Linked DNA regions of Homo sapiens. The protein of the gene in region 1 purifies or fractionates together with the protein of each later gene. This does not show direct contact. Each region holds a gene or a part of one and is shown on either strand. Other genes may lie near its edges.

Evidence for each region.
Region 2: the proteins of SLCO2B1 (region 1) and JPH1 purify together in Homo sapiens (affinity purification with mass spectrometry; one large-scale study listed by BioGRID and IntAct). This does not show direct contact.

The regions. Positions count from the first base shown.
Region 1 is NC_000011.10:75,157,607-75,161,106, forward strand, and holds part of SLCO2B1 (solute carrier organic anion transporter family member 2B1), read left to right. Parts: intron 1-2,225; exon of another isoform or gene 2,226-2,323; intron 2,324-3,500. UniProt on the Homo sapiens protein: Mediates the Na(+)-independent transport of steroid sulfate conjugates and other specific organic anions.
Region 2 is NC_000008.11:74,255,541-74,259,040, forward strand, and holds part of JPH1 (junctophilin-1), read right to left. Parts: intron 1-3,500. UniProt on the Homo sapiens protein: Junctophilins contribute to the formation of junctional membrane complexes (JMCs) which link the plasma membrane with the endoplasmic or sarcoplasmic reticulum in excitable cells.

The DNA of each region.
Region 1 (3,500 bases):
GCTTGAATATTTATCAGGAAAAGAGAGCAAGGGCCACCTATATGCCAGGCCAGCTGCCCCAAAGGCCTTACCTCTTTGAGGTCGTATAGAGGAGAAGAGATTTCTTGTCCTCACTCTTTGCTAGGCTGGTGGCTGAGGTCCCTATAACAAAAGACAGCTTAACAGGAGAAAAGCATACAAATTTATTTGGCTTTTAAAAATTTAATTTACTTATTATTATTTTTACATAGAGATGGGGTATCACCATGTCACCCAGGCTACTCTGGAACTACTGGGCTTGGTAATTCTCCCACCTCGGCCTCCCAAAGTGTTGGAATTACAGGCGTGAGCCACTGCGCCTGGCCCAAATTTATTTAATATAAGTTTTACATGACACAGGGGCCTTCAGAAATGAAGACCCAAAGAAATGGGAAAACGTGTGTATTCTTAAACTTTTTAGTTTTTATTATATTGAATTAAATTAAATTATTTATTTATTTATTTTTTGAGACAGGGTCTCACGCTGTCGCCCAGGCTGGAGTGCAGTGGCATGATCTCGGCTCACTGCAACCTCTGACTCCCAGGCTCAAGTGATCCTCTTGCCTCGGCCTCCCGAGTAGCTGGGATTACAGGCATGCACCACCACACCTGGCTAATTTTTTGCATTTGTAGTACAGATGAGGTTTCACCATGTTGCCCAGGCTGGTTTATTATTTTTTAATCATCTAGCCTAAAATGTCAAAAACTTGTGACTTTTTATGCCAAGTTTGATGAAGAAGTATATAGTTGTGGAAGTATTGCACAAAGAGTGTGTGAGCTAATGGTGATACACTTAGGGGAACCTAGCAAGGCCTGTTTGTTCAGATTCTTCTCTGTGTCCTTGCATCTTCAAAGTTAAGGCTGTTTTTTTTTTCTCCAGGTACAAAGACAGCAACTCTCAAATGAGAATCTTATGACCTATTTCAGGGTGAAAGGTGGGAGAAGGTCAGAGTGGGGTGACTATCCTAGGTTTTATGACCTGCTTCTACTGTTTTCTCAAATGTGGCCAAGGTGCCATATTTGGAGAATAGTGTGTCCTGAATTCCATCAGTAAATACTGTTATATTCACCTTACAAATGGGGAAACTGAGGCTCAGAAAGCTCAGGGATGTGCCCAGGCTCACACAGTGGGCTTGTAGCACATCTGGGATTCCAACCCAGGTCTGAGGCCTTAAAGCCTATTCTCAGCCTCACATTTCCCTGAGATCTGTCCTTTGCTGCTGGGAGGCAGCCAAAGGAGGCAGAATCCTGGGCCTTTCCCACAGAGAACAGGTAAAGGAAGGCGGTCCTTGCAGTCAGGCTGGTCTCTGAAACCTTGCTCCTCATCACCCAGACTCAGGTGGTGTGGAGAAGGCTGACTCTACCCATGAAGGGCAGCCCCTTGAAGGGTGAGTCTCTGACTGACCAGATACCTGGGAAACGAAGTTTGTGGCTGACAGACTTTCAGGAACTTGTCTGACTGTCTTATGAGGAGCTGCAGGCAGGTGGCTGACTGACGGCCTGAACGGACAGCTCTCCTGAAAGACAGTAGCCCGCCGGCTGGCTGGCTTACCAGCAGGTGGACACGATGTGCCTGCATGAGTGATCAGCCAAGTGACCGACTGACAGTCAGACACACAGACCCATTGCGGGCCAGCTCGGGCTGTGGGTCCCTAGCCCCTGGAGCCACCTGGCCTACCTGGGACCCCAAAACTTAGCTGCCCACCTGGGAGAGAGAGGGACTGGGTTTTTTAAACTAGGGCCTGGCTCTCTGCCCCAGGTCCCTTCATTCCCGCAGGCAACCGCCTGCCCAGCCCAGGTTCAGTCCCATGGCCGTCCCATCCTCCTGTCAGGGGTGGCCCCTGACAAAGGCCCCACAGCACAGGGCAGGGTCTCAGTGCCCTTCCACAGGAGGACACGCAGTCCTGGACTGGACCATCCTTCCAAGGGGAGTTCCGCCCTGAGTCAGGGAGGCGAAGGTTTGCTGTCAGCGCGTCAGCAGAGACCCCAGCCCACAGGAAAGGCTCGGAGGGGGTGGGCAGCCTGCCTGACAAGCCCCATTCAGTGACCAGCTGACCCCCAATACATGACTCGTGCTCCTCTCAGAACCCGGAGGAATGTGGCCAGTGCTTCCCTCCCCTGCCCAGAGGCACAGGCTGTGGACTTTGCCCTCCACAAACAGCCATATCTCTAAAGGATAAAGTACTCCCAGGAAGGCTTTGAGCCTTGGCAGAAAAGGCTGGGATTGAAGCTTCAGGGAGAGCCAGAGGTGAGGCTGGAGTGGGAGATCACCTGAGGCAGGTGAGCAGGCTCCATGAGTGGGCAGGTGAGAGGCCAGGGGGCTGGAACTGGGGCTAGACAGGCTGGGGCACAGCAAGGATGCCACCAGTATACCCAGGAAGCTAAGTGGAGGGTCCAGGGTCTGGCCTGGAGGCGGGGGCCTCACATTCTGAGCTGGCCCACAGGCTTCCACCCCTCTCCCCCATCCATTCCTTGGGTTTCCTTCAGAGCTGGGGCTCCAGGTCAAGGACTTCTGCTCCCAGCCTCAGCTCCCGCTCTCTCACCTGGTTGGCTTGGCCCCTTGGTGGACTGGCACTGCTACCTATGAAGTGACTTGGCTAGGTTTGGGTGGGCCAAGACAGAGAAAAGCACTGTGCTTCTTCCCCCTGTCAAACTTGTACAAGGAGCATTGAGTGATGTTGAGTTTAACACTTACCTGGGCTTGAGTCCTGGGACCAATGCTAACCAGCAAAGCTAGTTCCTCTGAGCCTGGGTGTCCTTATCAGAAGCATAGAGATAATAAGACACCAAAGGGACGGAGCTGTGGAGAGGGTTCATGGGCCAGTGCACAGAAAGCCTGTGGCATGGAGCCCAGACTACAGCAGGAAACCCACTGCGGCTGGTGAGAGGAGCTGAGGCTCAGAAATGGTCCCCTCCACCTCCTCTGGGAGCCTTTGCTTTGAACTGCCTTATTTCCTCCTTGCCTTTAAAGTGACTCCCACTGAGTGTCCCATGACACTCCTCTTCCCTAGGCCAATTTCCCGTCTCCTCGTCAGGTGTCAGTTTTGTTTCAACAGTTCCTTGCTTCCTCTGAGTGTTTATGCCCCGCAGAGGGACTCCTCCCTAGCCACACGCACTTCCATTTCCTCAGCCAAATTCCTCAACCTGTTTGTATAGACATTTCTCCAAAGCAAGATATACAAATGGCAGTAGGCACATGAAAAGATGCTCAATATCATTAGTCATTAGAAAAATGCAAACCAAAACCACACTGAGATACCACCTCTACCCTATGAGGATGGCTATAATTGAAAAGGCAGACAATGAAAGTATTAGCAAAGATGTAGAGAAATTGGGACATTGCTGGAGGGAGTGTAAAATGGTGTTGCCACTGTGGAAAATGGTTTGGCAGTTCCTCACATGGTTAAACATAGCATTATTGTATATGAACATATGACCCAGCAATTCCGCTCCTAGGTGTACACCCAAGAGAATTGAAAATG
Region 2 (3,500 bases), on another chromosome or scaffold:
AAATGGGATCTAATTAAACTCAAGAGCTTCTGCACAGCAAAATAAACCACCATCAGAGTGACTAGGCAACCTACAGAATGGGAGAAAATTTTTGCAACCTACTCATCTGACAAAGGGCTAATATCCAGAATCTACAATGAACTCAAACAAATTTACAAGAAAAAAACAACCCCATCAAAAAGTGGGTGAAGGATATGAACAGACACTTCTCAAAAGAAGATATTTATGCAGCCAAAAAACACATGAAAAAATGCTCATCATCACTGGCCATCAGAGAAATGCAAATCAAAACCACAATGAGATACCATCTCACACCAGTTAGAATGGCGATCATTAAAAAGTCAGGAGACAACAGGTGCTGGAGAGGATGTGGAGAAATAGGAATACTTTTACACTGTTGGTGGGACTGTAAACTAGTTCAACCATTGTGGAAGTGGGTGTGGCGATTCCTCAGGGATCTAGAACTAGAAATACCATTTGACCCAGCCATTCCATTACTGGGTATATACGCAAAGGATTATAAATCATGCTGCTATAAAGTCACATGCACACGTATGTTTATTGCAGCACTATTGACAATAGCAAAGACTTGGAACCAACCCAAATGTCCAACAATGATAGACTGGATTAAGAAAATGTGGCACATATACACCGTGGAATACTATGCAGCCATAAAAAATGATGAGTTCATGTCCTTTGTAGGGACATGGATGAAGCTGGAGACCATCATTCTCAGCAAACTATCACAAGGACAAAAAACCAAACACCGCATGTTCTCACTCATAGGTGGGAATTGATCAATGAGAACACATGGACACAGGAAGGGGAACATCACACACCGGGGCCTATCATGGGGTGGGGGGAAGGGGGAGGGATAGCATTAGGAGATATACCTAATGCTAAATGACGAGTTAATGGGTGCAGCACACCAACATGGCACATGTATACATATGTAACAAACCTGCACGTTGTGCACATGTACCCTAAAACTTAAAAAAAAAAAAAAGAACTCAAACAAATTTACAAGAAAAAAACAACCCCATCAACAAGTGGGCGAAGGATATGAACAGACACTTCTCAAAAGAAGACATTTATGCAGCCAAAAGACACATGGAAAAAAGCTCATCATCACTGTTCATTAGAGAAATGCGAATCAAAACCACAATGAGATGTCATCTCACACCAGTTAGAATGGCGATCATTAAAAAGTCAGGAAACAACAGAATAATGCAGTTTTAAACTAAACAACATAAGATTTAATTAAGATGGAAAATATCTGAAAATACTGCCAGCTCCTGAAAATAGGTAATTTGCCATGGAAGCGTTCAACATGTAAGCTATGACAGGCATCTTTTATTCCAGGGTTAACAACTTCTATGCACGAACACATGCATTCCAAACAATGGAGACTTTTATATCTGAGATATGTAAATTAAATGGCCAGCCTAATTTAGAAGTACTTGAAAGCCCTTTTCGAAAATGTCTATCTGATTTGCTCACCCTGTAAATGCAAAGTGGAGAGCATGAGTTATGCTCCCTTAAGAAGATCAATAATACCCGCGACAGAAAAGGCTTTCTATACAGTTGCTGAAGAAAGTGCTGGCTGTGTGTCAAAGGGGACTGCAGCCTCCCCGACAAGCTCTGGTCTCAAATAGACCCGCTGTCGTCCATGCTACTGTGATGTATTCATTCCTGACGGACAACTTGCTTATATGAAGCTGTTTTAGCTAAGAAAGGGTGGCATTACATTTTCCCACAATATTTTTTTTCCCTTCAAATGCTTTTACACCAGAAAAGGCTTTTAAAACCATTCAGTCTGGGAAACCAAGATGATCTTTCGTATCATTTACCTCTTGTTAACACCTGATAGAAATCTAAAGGGACCCCATTCCCCAACAGAATTAACAGAACCAAGAAATTACCATCTGCAGACAACAGTAAGTTTGTTTGCTTTCAAAGCCGCTCAAGCCCAGTGCCTCCTGATCAGTCAGGTTCTTTCCAATGGCAGCACTGCTAGGGAGGAGAGAACAATTTCTCCTGGGTGGCTGAACCCTTTTCCCAGCTCTCACGCCCTGGAACAGCTAATTTGCCAATATACGTAGGTACCAGGGAAGTATGAGTTCATTTCACGCCAGAGGAGAGTTTATTCCTACCAGAGGTCGCTGCAAAAAATGGAAAGGTTCCTTTTCCTAAAAATTGCATATATATAAAAAATGATTTAAATCTCAACCAGAGGTTTAAAAGAGATGCGTGTGAAAGAAAATACCCTTCTCAGTGGTTGCCTTGGACTTGAACTCTTAGAGAAGTCACTCTGTGATGATGATATCTATCATTCAACAACCACCTTGGGTCCCTCCCCAGCCTTTCTCTTATAAAAACCGAATCTTCTTTGCCTGGCCTTTTACTGTCTTCTTTCTTTGCAGGAACCTCCTGCCCCCATTCTCCAGGTCATTTCTCATTGCTCCATCCTTGATTATAGCCAAGTTTCTAGCTTTTCTACAAATCTTGCTATTTTGTTCACTTTGACTTACATCGTTCGTTAGGACTCAGTGATACCCTGTGGGTTCCGACAGCGTATACCCCTCACCAGAGCCAAACATGAATCGAACACCTACCTCATGCAGGGTGCTGGGCTAGGGACAGGATGCTAGTTATACAGCTTGATTTAATAAAAACCAGTGTGGAAAAATCCTTTACCAAGAAATGTAACTTTTAACATAAATTGAAAACATTTATTTTGGTTTCTTCACCTAGAAATCTGTTGATGCCTCAAACAATCACGGAGAATATATATAAATAGGTGAATATTGCCTTTTTGAAACTCAAAACAAAAACACTAGTATATTATAGAGAGGGGTAGAAAGAGTCTACTAGGAAACTACTAGAAAGTGAATTAAGAATTTAAACTATTGCAAATATTTGTTGATTGCTATTTTGTAACATCTGAGAGGCAGATGACCAAGATCGATTTTTTTGAGGTTGTCACTTTTATTTCTTCCATTGTGACATGCATTTTCCTCTTACTCTGTGCAGATTAATCTCTTTAAGTGGTATGCTGCTATACTTCCTAACCACAGTCCTTTGAACTTTGAACTTTAGTTCAGATACGTTAAAAAAAAGTCACAGTACTGACTGGCTCTTCTCTTACTACTAAAAGTGCCTCTGAATTTGGGGGTATTTGTTATAGAATCTGTAGCTGTCACTAAAATAATTTCTTAGAATCAGATATTTTAGATTCTTGTCTAGTTTACTGCTATCAGCTCAAACTTTGTTGGTCATATGTAGAGGGGAGGAAGGGTGAGACTCTGGGGAATAACCCATCTCCAGGGCTAACACTCAGACCTCGGGTGATATTTGTTACTACAAGTTGAACATTCCTAATCCAAAAATCTGAAATGCTCCAGAATCCAAAACATTGTGGGCACCGACACGATGCTACAAGTGGAAAATTCCACATGACCGATGGTCACAGTCAAAATGCAGTCAAAACTTTGTTCCAT